Linked DNA regions of Homo sapiens: regions 2 and 3 are each linked to region 1. The links come from fine-mapping of genetic effects on gene expression. A gene starts in region 1. Each other region holds a variant in brackets. All regions are shown on one strand. Distances are from middle to middle. Region 1 holds the start of NCLN (nicalin). Region 2 has its middle 29 kb from the start of NFIC. Region 3 overlaps CELF5 (CUGBP Elav-like family member 5).

Region 1 (4,147 bases):
TGATTTCTCCTCCTCCCTAGGTCTCCTCTAGGCTCCCACAGCTGCCTGTGTTCCCTGCATGACAGCTCTGCTTTATACTGGGCACAACTTTCCCTCTTTCTTCACTCATCTGCTCTGGCTCATCTTTTGAGTTTCAGCTTAAGTGTCACCTCCTCCAGGAAGCCTCCTCTGATTTCCTCTCCTCCCTAGGCCTCCTCTGGGCTTCTCCCAGCTGCCTTTGTGTCCTCTATCCCAGCTCCCATCACCCCTGGTCACACAATCCACCTCCTCCTTTGGACTTCGAGCTCCGTGTCGGTGGATAGTGTGGCTTTGCTGGGGTCCCGGCTGTGTCCCCAGCACCCACCACACGGCTGGCACACAGTAGGTGCTCAGTGACCCAGCAGCACACTCAGAAACTCCCTTTCTAGCCGGGCGCGGTAGCTCACGCCTGTAATTTACAGCTACTCAGGAGGCTGAGACACAGGAATTGCTTGAACCCAGGAGGTGGAGGTTGCGGTGAGCTGAGATCAAGCCACTGCACTCCAGCCTAGGTGACAGAGACTACATCTCAAAAACAAACAAACAAACAAACAAACAAACAGAATTCTCACATGCTGCTGGCAGGGAGAGTGCTTGATTCTTTATCATTATATCTGAGGAAACTGAGACTCTGAGAGGTGAAGCGACTTGCCCAAAGCCACACAGCTGGGAAATGGAGGAGTTGGGATTTGAGCCCAGGCTCTTAATCGGCACCAATGCCACTTCTCACTTGGGACAGAAAGGAAGCCCTGACTCCTTAGGCAGCTGTACGGAGCCTGGGATGATAACGTGCTGAGAGCCAGGGCTACTGTCTGCTGCACCCTGGGGCTCAGTCTCCCCATCTGTACAAAGGGACGTTCCTTAGGTACCTCCAGCCCTGAGACACTGGGTTTTAACTTTAAATTTCTGATGAACAACAAATACTTTTTTAGTATAAGTATGCCCCAAATATGAATAAAGATAAATATAAATACCTGCCACCGACCCCTGCACAAACCGCAGGTTCCAGACTACAAGTCCCACAACCCACTGCGGCCTCCCTTAGGAACTGACTATCATGACTTTCTATTTTTCATTCATTCATTCAAAAATGGTATAGGCCACCCGCCGTGCGCCAGGTCTTGTGCTAGATGCCGGGGATACATCATATGCACAAAACAGACAAAAGTTTTTGCCTTCGTGGAGTTTGACATCTACATCCTCGGGAGTTTTAAGTGATTTTTGTTTTTCTCAGCAATTTCTGCCAGGACGACTACAGTTCCCGTGACCCTTTGTGTGTTTGACGGGACTACAACTCCCAGAAGACCTAGCGCGCCAGGCAGGCACTTCCTTTTCTCTTTATCCCCAACTTCCTTCCAGGTCGCAAGGTCACGTCCTGTCCCCACCTTTCGCCCCTCACCCTAGCTCCCCCAACGCCAAAGACAAGGTTAAGAAAGTGATATCGCGAAATAGTTTTTTAAAGCATTTTATTGCATTTTATGACTTGGAGTTTATGTGAAACCTCAACGGTATTAGCCGAACAGCCTGCCGCACCTTCCGGGAGTTCCAGAGTGGGCCTACAACTCCCACAGGGCTCCGCGAGCGCCGGACGGACGGACTACAATTCCCGACAGGCAGCGCGGCTGGCGGGGCGGTTCGCCGCGGTGCCCACAGGACCTCAGGGCGAGTGCGGGCTGCCCCGCGCGGCGCCCGCAGGACCCCGGCGGCTACCCATGCCGAGGTGAGTCCGCGGGAGCCGCCGCCGCCGCCGTCCCGTCCCAGCTGCCGCCCCGCGCGGCCCCGCCGCCGGCCAGGATGCTGGAGGAAGCGGGCGAGGTGCTGGAGAACATGCTGAAGGCGTCTTGTCTGCCGCTCGGCTTCATCGTCTTCCTGCCCGCTGTGCTGCTGCTGGTGGCGCCGCCGCTGCCTGCCGCCGACGCCGCGCACGAGTTCACCGTGTACCGCATGCAGCAGTACGACCTGCAGGGCCAGCCCTACGGTGCGTGTCCCCGGCCCACCCTCGGGGCTCCCCGGGCTCCCCGGCCACGCCACTCCGGCCCGGCGATCCCCAGGCCGATCCCTAGCTCCGGCCTGGGCTGCCCGACCCATGCTCAGGCCCCAGGCGAGGCAGAGCCCTGCCGCCCTGGACCCCCGGGCGCCCTGGAATCCCTGCTCTCCTTGCCTAGCGCCCAGGGACCCCCCGCGCTCGCTCCCACAGCCCCCGGCCCCTGCCTAGGTCTCCCTGCCCCGGAACCCATGGCCGGGCCAAGCGTCCCGCGTCCCTGGAGCCCTAAGTCCCCTCTCTCCTGTCCCCAGCTGGGCCGGCGTCTGCCTGCCTTGCCGAGTTTCTCCCTCCTGGGCCCCCTCCGCCCCTTAGGCTTCCTGGTCCGGGCTCACTTGAGCAGACGCTCCCGTCCTGACCTCCAGCTCCCAGGGTCCTGTTCTGGAGACCATCTGGTTGGTCTCTGGATTCACTGGGTCACGTCCGTGTTCCCAGGCCTCTCGCCTTTAGCTGACTGCGTTTGGAGTTAAAGGTCCCTGCACTGATTTCTGCCAGGCTGAGCCACCCGACGCGGTGGTCCAGCATTCCCCACCCCCTCCCACGGCCCTGGGTGCCAAGTGCATTTTGTCCAGTGCCCAAATTCAACTCCCCTGAATTTTCTCGCTCTAGTCACCGGCCCCCACGTCAAGGGCACATTTGTCCCCAGACCCCTGACGCTCTCTGGTCCCAGTTCGTGAGTCATGTTTCAGAATCTGCTAGCCCAGCTTCCCTGGTCTCCTCCCACGTCCCCAGTTCAGTCCACTCGCCTGGGGTTCCCTTTGACCCCCTTTCTGTCCCGCCTTTGATGCATACCCACGCCCTCAGCTCAGCCTCCTCACACCCACTTCCCAGAACCCCACTTGTTCCATCTTTCCAGGATTTCCTCTTCCCTTTCCAAATTCGCACCCCCTTGCCCTTGCATTCTGCAAGTCTCCCACTCAACAGCCTCGCCCCCTCCCGTCGTGGCCCTGACCCCAGTGTCTAGACCATTCCACATCCCCTTGTCTTTGCCTGGCTATAGCTGTCCCTGACATTCCAGAACCTGGTCCCTGGTTTTTCTTCTTTTCAGCCTGGCCCCTCAGGTCCCTGGAAGTCAAGGCCTGGCCTTCCCTGTGAAGGAGTCCCGTCCGCTTGTTCTCCTGGCCCCCTTAGTTCCCAGCCCGGATTCTCTTGGATTGGTCCCTCTCGTCACATCTCAGGCTCAACCTGAGGCGCGGGGACCCCCAGCTTCTGCCAGCCCTTGGGGAGCCCATCTCTGGAGATGGAACCAGACTTTGGCCTCAGGTCCCATTTTGCCCCAGAGTTACGATTTTTTTACTTAGAGCCATTGTTGTCAACCGAGGGGACGCTGGGTGATGTCTGGGGACATCTGTGGTTGTCACGACCACGGGTGCTCCTGGCATGGAGTGGGTGGAGGCCAGGGACGCTGCTCAATTCCCTGTAGTGCCCAGGACGGCCCCACCCCAGAGAACGATCCGGCCCTAATGTCCACAGTGTCCAGGGGAAGCGCCCTGGGGCCACAGTGGTGGTGTATAAACCCAAGGCCCAGGCTCTGGAGGGTGGGAGTGGAAGGCCAGAGGCTCCTCATGCAGTGACCGCGTTTTCCGTGCTGCTTGGGATTTTCCCGGGGGAAGGGTCCTGACGGGCACCATCCTGTAGAATCGCCTCCATCTTTGCTGCCTGGCACAGGAGCCAGCAGCCACAGGAGGCTGCCGAGCCCCCAAAGCGTGGCCTGTGCAACCGGGGGGCAGGATTTTCAGCGCTGCTTGAGGGTAATAAACGCAAGTAGCCACGCGTGCCTGCGGCTCTCATAGCGGCTTCCGTGGGGTTTCCAGGGCAGTCTGCACCCCAAAGACCCCACTCCTAGAGCTCGAGATACCCTGTTCACACTCTTGGCATCTCCTGCCTGGTCCTCCAGCTCACCCGGCCTCCCTCCAGCCCCCCGGGCAGGTGTGATCTGGTGGCTGCTACACTGTCCCTGGGCAGGTGTGGGCCCCCTTTCTCTCCCCAAGAACCCACCCAGGGAATGCATGTTGGCGGCTCCCTACACTGTCCCTGGGCAGATGTGGGCCCCCTTTCTCTCCCCGCAAGTCCGCCCAGGGAATGCAT
Region 2 (4,147 bases), 150 kb after region 1:
CCTCTGGCCCCAGTCTCAGAGACGCCCATGCCTGGGAAGAGCAAGTCAGCAACTTGGCCCAGAAGGAGACTTTGACAGCGAGGAGGGCTGCATTTGAATTTCAGCTCTGTCACTTTTTTTGCAGGTGACTGAGCAGGTCACTCCTTTTCTCTGGGCCTCAGTTTCCCCCTCTGGAAAAATGGGAATAATGAAGCACCCTCCTGGCCGGTTTCGCAATGCTCAAATGCAATATGGTTGTGCTGAGTGCAAAGCGTGGTCCTGAGAGGGCACTCAATACACATGAACGATTCAGCCCTAAGTTCTCGAAATATGTTCAAGGTACCCGCTGCGGGTCTAGCTCTGTCCTAGACACAGGAGATCCAGCAGCAAACAAAAGTGACACTGACACCTGTCCTTCTCGAGGGTTTGGGACTCCAGGGAGAGACACAAACCGTGAATTAAAATGTTAACGTTCAAGAAGGATGAATGCTATAAAGAGAAATGAAACTATCGTTAGATCTTATTATTGTTGTGACTGTTACTGTTGATACCCAATTGATCGTGATTATAGCCCTGATTCCAGCTTCCACAGTTATTGGAGGTATGCAATTATTTAGCACCAACTGTGTACCAGGCTCCAAATACCTATAGCCCCACAAAATCATTTCCCAGAAGAGAAACCAAGGTCTCAGGTCTGTCCAAGATTGTGAGCTGGTTGTGCAGGGCAGGCCTGGGAGTGGATCTGCCAGATGGCACGATTCCCGGACCTGCCCCCACCTCCCAGGGGGAGCTGGCATCCTCCCAGCTGGACCTGGCCCCCCCTTGGAGCTTCCCCAACCTGGGGATACAGAAGGGCCCCCACGGGGAGGGAGGCAGCCAGGGCAGGCAGTGGCACAGAGCAAGGAGGGAGCAGGGCGTCTGCCACCCGCCCCCACGGCTGCCTGGGAAACGCCACGGCCTAATCCTGGCTCAAGAGGACACGTTGTACCAGAGATTATATAAACCGACCTCTCCCTTTGTTTGTTTAATTCTTTCAGGCTTTTTCCCTCATCCTTCTCTCTTTAATCGCTCTGCCAACAGGGCTGGGGGTGGGGTGCTCCGGGCTAGGCCTCTTCCAGGAGGGAGGGGGCTGCATACCCAGCACCCCCCACTCTGGTCATACCCCTACCTGGTTTCCCAGCCACCCAGGCCCGCTCCTCCCCCAGTCACACACACCAAGTCCTGCCGGTGGCAGGGGTGTGGGGCTGGACAGGCTTGGCCAGTGGAGTGAGTCTGAGAGGCCAAGGCCAAGGGCACTGAGTCAGGCTCGGACTCTGCTGGGCCCCTAGGATGTGGCCTCTCCACTTGGCACTCAGCTTCCTCTTCCAAAAAAATGGGATCCCTGTGGTCCCAACCCCCAGGTTGTTGAGAACACGCCCATGCAAGGAGTGAGCATGGCCCATGGTGGATGCCGGGTGAGAGCCGCTGCCTGCTCCCAGCCCACACTACAGACACCCAGGGAACAGTTTCGCCCTCAGACTGGCCCTGGAGCACCGTGACTGTGGTGGCCAATTGGGCCTCCGAGATGTCCACGATGCCTGGTGGGTGCTCTGATGTGGAACACTGGGCACCATCACCCAGAGAGGGCAACCAGGGGTGTCTGGCTTTGTGCTCACCCACCGCTGACCCCGAGCCTGGCCCTGGCCCTCACCAAGACCCAGTATTTCCATCTGTGTCCTGGGGAGGCCAACACGAACCTCCCCACCATCAGGGCAGTCCACCCACAGAGGGGCCTGGGTTCCCATCCTGACCCCCTCCTTTACCACCTCTGCCACCCTGTGCTGCTTGGTTGCTCTGTGCCTCAGTTTCTCCATCTGTAAAGTGGGGATCATCATAGCAGTCAGACCCCCCAAGAGGATTAATCGTGTTAATCCTTATAATGCATTTATTCTTAATTTATATTACTTTTTTTTTGTAGAGATGGGCTTTTCCCATATTGCCCAAGCTGGTCTGGAACTCCTGGGCTCAC[G/A]TGATCCACCTGCCTCGGCCTCCCAAAGTGCTGTGATTACAGGCATGAGCCACCACATCTAGCTATGCATTTTAGAACGGGCCCTCACGTATATTAACATGAAAGTATCTGCTAACTAAAAGAAAATAACAGCAACAGAAATAAGTAAAGAAATGGCCAGTTGCAGTGGCTCACGCCTGTAATCCCAGCACTTTGGGAGGCCGAGGCAGGTGGATCACCTAAGGTCAGGAGTTCGAGACCAGCCTGACCACTATGGTGAAACCCCGTCTCTACTAAAAATACAAAAATTAGCTGGGTGTGGTGGCGTGCACCTGTAGTCCCAGCTACTCGGGAGGCTGAGACAGGAGAATTGCTTGAACCCGGGAGGCAGAGGTTGCAGTGAGCTGACATCGCACCACTGCACTCCAGCCTGGGCGACAAAGTGAGACTCAGTCTCAAAAAAAAAAAAAAAATTAAAATTAAAAAAAAAAGTAAAGAAAGAATCCAGGCCCATTGCACACATGGGAAACTGAAGTTGATGTTCCCAAAGCAAGTCAGAGGCAGGGCTGGGAGCTGAGAAATCAGCTGGGAACCTCTCACCCTACACCTCCCTGGAGCCCAGTGGAGGGAGGCTGGGGGCAGGGGACAGAGAACTGAGGTCATGGTGCCAGGTCCCAAGGGGCCCAGGCTCACGTTCCTGCCTGATGGCTGCAAGCTCCCAAACATCCCACTCTGAGCCTCTCCTTCCCTTCTCTGTACGACAAGCCCCAGGGTGGCACAGGGTGGGCGGGGTGTTGGGGTGCCCGGCCACTCCCAGCCCTTTACATAACCTGCGGCACAGCAGGAAATCAAAGTGCCAACAACTGCCTCCTCAGTAACCGACTTCCTGTCGTTACCCACCCACCTTGGGCACCAGCTGCCTGCTCCCTACCTCCAGTGGCAGAGGGGTCCCATCCCTGACCCCAGGGTTTCCTCCCCAAGGAAGGGCCCCCGTACCCTAGGCTGCTCCATCATGCGACCCTGAGCCAGTGTCCAGCCAGCTCTGGCCTCAGTTCCTCCATCCAGATGTGTCCCTGGGCTGCCAGGACCGTCACCCTGCTCCTTTCGGCCACTGGCTGGGAGACTGCATACTGGCTGCCCCAGACCTGAGGCTGGAGGTCAGAGGGCAAAGGGCAAAGGCCAAGGAATTCCCTTTTTTTTTTTTTTTCTGTGACAGAGTCTCGCTCTGTTGTCCAGGCTGGAGTGCAGTGGCACTATCTTGGCTCACTGCAACCTCAGCTCCCAGGTTCAAGCAATTCTCCTGCCTCAGCCTCCCTAGTAGCTGGGATTACAGGCATGTGCCACCATCCCTGGCTAATTTTTTTTTTTTTTTTTTTGTATTTTTAGTAGAGACGGGGTTTCACCATGTTGGCCAGGCTGGTCTTGAACTCCCGACCTCAACTGATTTACCTACCTTGGCCTCCCAAAGTCTTAGGATTACAGGTGTGAGCCACCACACCTGGCTGGAATTCCTTTTTTTAATTTATTTATTTTATTAATTTATTTATTTATTTATTTTGAGACAGAGTATCACTCTGTTGCCCAGGCTGGAGTGCAGTGGCGTGATCTCGGCTCATTGCAACCTCTGTCCCCCAGGTTCAAGCGATTCTCCTGCCCCAGCCTCCCGAGTAACTGAGATTGCAAGTGCACGCCACCATGCCCGGCTAACTTTTGTATTTTTAGTAGAGACGGGGTTTCACCATGTTGGCCAGGCTGGTCTCGAACTCCTGGCCTCAGGTGATCCACCCACCTTGGCCTCCCAAAGTGCTGGGATTACAGGCATGAGCCACCGCACCGGCCCAGAATTTCCTTTTTAGAGCGAGAGAAGCAGGAGTTGCCTCTCCCATTGAGGGAGGGAGACTCTGGTTCTTCAGGGCTTTTCAAAGCTGTGGGTAGGCGGTAGAGGGCGCCCCCCACCCAGTGGTGCAAAGAGGAGACCCCAGCCCTGCTCTGGAAGGGAGTGAGGGATTGGGGGGAAGGTCTCTGGGGCAAACAGCACTTAGTGACAGCCACAGTCATATGACTGTCCGCATTTTACAGATAGGGAAACTGAGGCATGAAGCAAGGCCGCCATCTGCCCAAGGTCCCGTGGTCTGTAAGTGGTAGAGCCAAGATTTGAACCTCTGAAGACAGGGGTGTTGG
Region 3 (4,147 bases), 41 kb after region 1:
GCACCTGGACGAGAAGGACCTCAAGCCGCTCTTCGAGCAGTTCGGCCGCATCTACGAGCTCACGGTGCTCAAAGACCCCTACACGGGGATGCACAAAGGTGGGCGCCCGGCCCCCTCCCCCCTCTCCCCCTCCCTCCGCCTCCCACCCCACCTTCCGGCATCTTCTCTCCCCCATCACCATCCCTCCTCTGCTCACCTCCCTCCTCTGCCTGCCTCTGCCGGAGCATCGGTTCTTACCCCCTCCCTCCCACCCACCCCTCCTCCCCTCTCTGGGGGTGCAGCTGACAGATCCGAGCGGGCCCCCTCCCCTCCTCCGCCCCCTCTCCCTCCCTCCCCACCTTCCGGCATCTCCTCTCTCTCTCCCTCTCTCTCTCCCTCTCTCTCTCCCTTTCTCTTCTCTCCCATCTCCCTCGACCTCTCATCCTTCCCCCCACAGCACCCTCTCTCTCCCTCCCTCCCTCCCTCACCCTTCCATCCCCCAGACCCCCACCCCTTCCTCCCTCCCTCACCCCACTCTTTCCTGCCCGTTTGCCAGGGGAGCCTCGGGAACGCCGGCACCCCTCCCTGCCCCCCCACCCCCATTCATTCAGCCTCCCCAGGCCCCGTCGGGGAAGTTTGCACCTGCGGACTCCATTGCTTTGGTTATTTTCACAAAGCCAGGCCGGCGGGGCAGGTCCGGCCGCGGGGGACACGGATGCCCAGGACCCCAGGCTAATCGGTAACTACAAAGGAAGACGGGTTGGGGGCGCCCGGCTCGGGGGGACGCGCCCGCCTCGCCTGCCTCGGGTGGCGGAGAGGCTCCCGTCGCTGCCCACCCCCTGGCCCCACCACCTCCGCGTGGATCAGCATTCTCTCCTCCATTTCTCTGCCCTCCCCCTCCCCCGCCTCCACCTTGGGCTCAAGTTGAAACTGGCCGAGCCTCTTAGCAATGTGTTGGGGTCTCAGGCCCAAGACAATGAGCTTGGACGTGTCCATCTGGGCAGAGCCCAAATTCTGGGGTGGACAGGGAGGAGGAGGGAGGCGTGGGCGGCCTCAGGCCTGTCTGCCTCCCTCCCACTGGATTCTCCCTCCGATGGCATCCCGGGTGGGGGTGTCCGGCAATTGTATCCCCAGCCCTTGGTTCCCATCATGGGCCCAGCGTCTGAATTGGGGTGGCTTTGACAGCCTTCCGGTCAGGTGTTGGGGACTGGGGGTGCCACTTCAAAGGCCTTGTGCTGGACACCCCCGGCCCTCCCCCTCCCATCCTCCAGGAAGACCCTGGAGAGGCCTTGGGGAAGGACCGGGGCCCATGACCTATTTTACACCCACTTTTTCCCCAGCGCTGCGTGCCCGGTAAGCATGAATGCATGTTTATTGAATGAATGAATTGAATGAATGAATGAATGAATGAATGAATGAATGAAGGGGTTCAAGAAGGCCCTAGGGAGGGTCTGGTGAGATGGGGCCCAGGCCTGTCACTTCAGCTAGACCCTCCAGCTGGTTATCTTGAGGGAGGAAAGAAACCCCTCCCCATTCCCCATCTCTTTTCAAAACCAACCATCACACACACACACACACACACACACACACACACACAAAATTGGGCCTGAAAAATCTAACTCCTCCATGTGGCCTAGGAGGGCAGAGGGGCTCCCATGCGGCCCCCATAAGTCAATATCTGGAGTCCAGAGGTGATAGGTGGGCTTTTCCCACACGCCCCCACCCCTGGGTACACCCAAAGCACCCATTTCTAGAAAGATTCCCGTGGGAATGGGGGAGTCCACATGGCCCCCCAAACGGTTGCATTGAAAGGCCGCTGGTTGAGCTCTAGGTCGGAGAGACAGGTGGGGGTGCAGGGACTGGAGCATCCTGGTGACTCTTCTTCATCTTTTTTTTTTTTTCCTTCTTATTTTTAAATCTCTGGGAAACCTGGGCACGGGAGAAGTGAGGGGTGAAGGAGGGGCTGGGGCTGGGTTTTCACCTGGCCCTGAGCCTCAGTTTCCCTGCTGTCAACAGAGCAGGACCATGACGCATCCCCAGTTCTTTTTTTACAGGTTGGAGAATGTTGGGGTCCCTGGGGTACCTCGGGGGTATTTCCCATTTGCGGGCTTTCCTTGGAGGGTGAGAATTGAGAAGCCGTGTGCACGACAGCCGGCAATCACCCTCCACTTTTTAGGGGTCCCAGGTCCGTCTGTGTGTGAGATACAGGGGCTTCACCTCGTGT[C/T]GAAAATGGGTCCAGTACCCTCGGGGAAGTGAATCCCCACCTGCGTGGGGCCTGGCTGGACTTCACCTGGTCTTTGCCTGCAGGTGCTTGGCACGAAGGGGTGGGGGGGTGTCTTCAGAATCAGCATCTGTGATCCAGGTTTGCGTTTGGGGCTCAGCTGTGTGACTTCTGGCTAGTGACTGCCCCTCTCTGGGCCCTCTCTGGGCCTTGGCTGAAGGGAGGTGGAATGGTGAATGGGAAGTCAGGATTTTTGGGGAGAGGAGTGAGTTCAGACACCTGCCACCAACATGACCTTATTAGGGCTGTTTCTGGGAGCCCTGGCGTGGTTTAGTGTGCCTGTTCAGAGTGGCAGGGCCTTGGGGATATGGACCCCAGGCCTGGAGAGAAATCCCTTTCCCTGGATGCCCGGCGGGGCCCATGAGACTGGGCACAGGAGATCTGTAAGGAGTAGAGTGGGGTGGGATGAGAACACCCTGGAGGTGCACCCGGCTCCTGGTACAAGCCCGGAGGGGGTCAGCTGGTACCACCTCTAGCCCTTCCTTGGTGTCCAGGCTGCAGGGACTTGTTTGATTTCCCCATGGAACCCATCGCCATGGAGGTGGGCTCCGAGTGACAGCGCATTTCTGGGAAACTGAGGGCTTGAGAGACATACCCTGGGTCCCACATTTACCGGAGCTAGGCCCCCATTACCCCCCCTGCCTTCCTCCCAGGCCAGGAGAAGCAGCTGTGCCTGTATCTGTGTGACATAGGGGTGACAGGTTCCCCAAAGCCAAGAGTGAGGCCCCCAGAGATGGTGCTGGGGATGGAGGGGCCCGTGACACCTGACAGCCACAGCTGGCCTGGCCGAAGGTGGCGTGGGGGCAGCCAGATTCCTAGAGGCCGTGCTGAGACTCAGAGAAAGGCAGGAGGCCTCATCCAGGAGCGGGGCAGGGGTAGGGGGAGAGGGATGCGTCGAGGTGGTCTTCCGAAAGAGGGCAGGCCCTGGGGCGCTGGGTTTGTTTTTAAGAGAGAGAGAGAGAGAGAGATGAGGACACAGAGAGAGAGAGAGAGACACGCAGGGAAAGAGAGACAGAGAGACCCACAGAGAGACAGAGACAGAGAAACACAGACAGGGAGGGGGCTGCAGAGAGATGCAGGCCCACAGGAAGACCACAAGCCTGCTCCTGCCAGAACTCCGCATCCAGAGAGCGGGGACCTCCCCCAGGAAGGACCCCCACCCCAGGCCAGGGGCTCAGGCCAAGAACTGGAGGCTGGGATTGGGGCTCCCGCTGGCCCCCCTGCAGTTCCTGCCCCGGGGACCCTCCCTCCAAGGCAGGCACCTCTGGAGCTGTGGCTGCCCCTGTCTATGGATGGTGGCTGCCTGGGTGCCCACCCTGCCAGGGGAAGGTGCCCACGGTGGTACTGGTCCGCCGCTGCCACTGGGCCCCCCGTTTATGGTAATCGCATATACATTTGCATGTTAATGACAATATTTGTCTTAAAGCGGAGGTTGCGCTGGGGGACGGTGCAGGTGGGGGGGGGGCCCGGCGGGGGCCCGGGTGGGGGCCCGCGGTTTCCATGGGAGCACCAGCTGCCGGCTCGACTCGGGAGGGGGGGAGGAGGAGGCTGTAGCAGGCTGAGCTCTGAGGCGTGAGATTCCGCGTGTGACGCACCAGCTCCAGGGAGAAGGCGGGCTGGGCGGCCTGGCGGGGGGACCGCGGGAGCAGTTGGCACCCCTGGTGGTGGCGGGGACAGCGGCAGGGGGCTGGGGGTGGCTGGCAGGGTTGGCCGGCGTGTGTGTGTGTGTGTGTGTGTGTGTGTGTGTGTGTGTGTACGCGGGCGCGCGCCTGGGAAGGACTCCTGCCGGGGTGCTGTGTGGCTTCAAGCTGAGCGCGCCCCTCTCTGTGCCTCGTTTTCCCCTGCTGCATATTCTCTCCTTTATTTAACAGACTTTCATAAGGCCCC

Evidence for each region.
Region 2: its variant is fine-mapped to the expression of NCLN in spinal cord (GTEx, PIP above 0.99).
Region 3: its variant is fine-mapped to the expression of NCLN in whole blood (INTERVAL, PIP 0.90).

Annotation. Positions count from the first base shown.
Region 1 is chr19:3,184,219-3,188,365 of GRCh38, forward strand. It overlaps NCLN (nicalin), which reads left to right and starts at 1,712. Exons shown (of 15, transcript NM_020170.4): 1 at 1,712-1,996. The coding sequence starts at 1,813. RefSeq lists enhancers at 790-1,672, 979-1,118 and a silencer at 1,629-2,198.
Region 2 is chr19:3,335,960-3,340,106 of GRCh38, forward strand. No RefSeq gene overlaps it. Among named protein-coding and RNA genes, the nearest start is that of NFIC, 29 kb to the right of the region's middle. The variant G/A (reference allele first, on the strand shown) is at 1,988.
Region 3 is chr19:3,224,901-3,229,047 of GRCh38, forward strand. It overlaps CELF5 (CUGBP Elav-like family member 5), which reads left to right. Exons shown (of 13, transcript NM_021938.4): 1 at 1-98. Among named protein-coding and RNA genes, the nearest start is that of CELF5, 2.3 kb to the left of the region's middle. RefSeq lists enhancers at 2,952-3,492, 3,493-4,032. The variant C/T (reference allele first, on the strand shown) is at 2,204.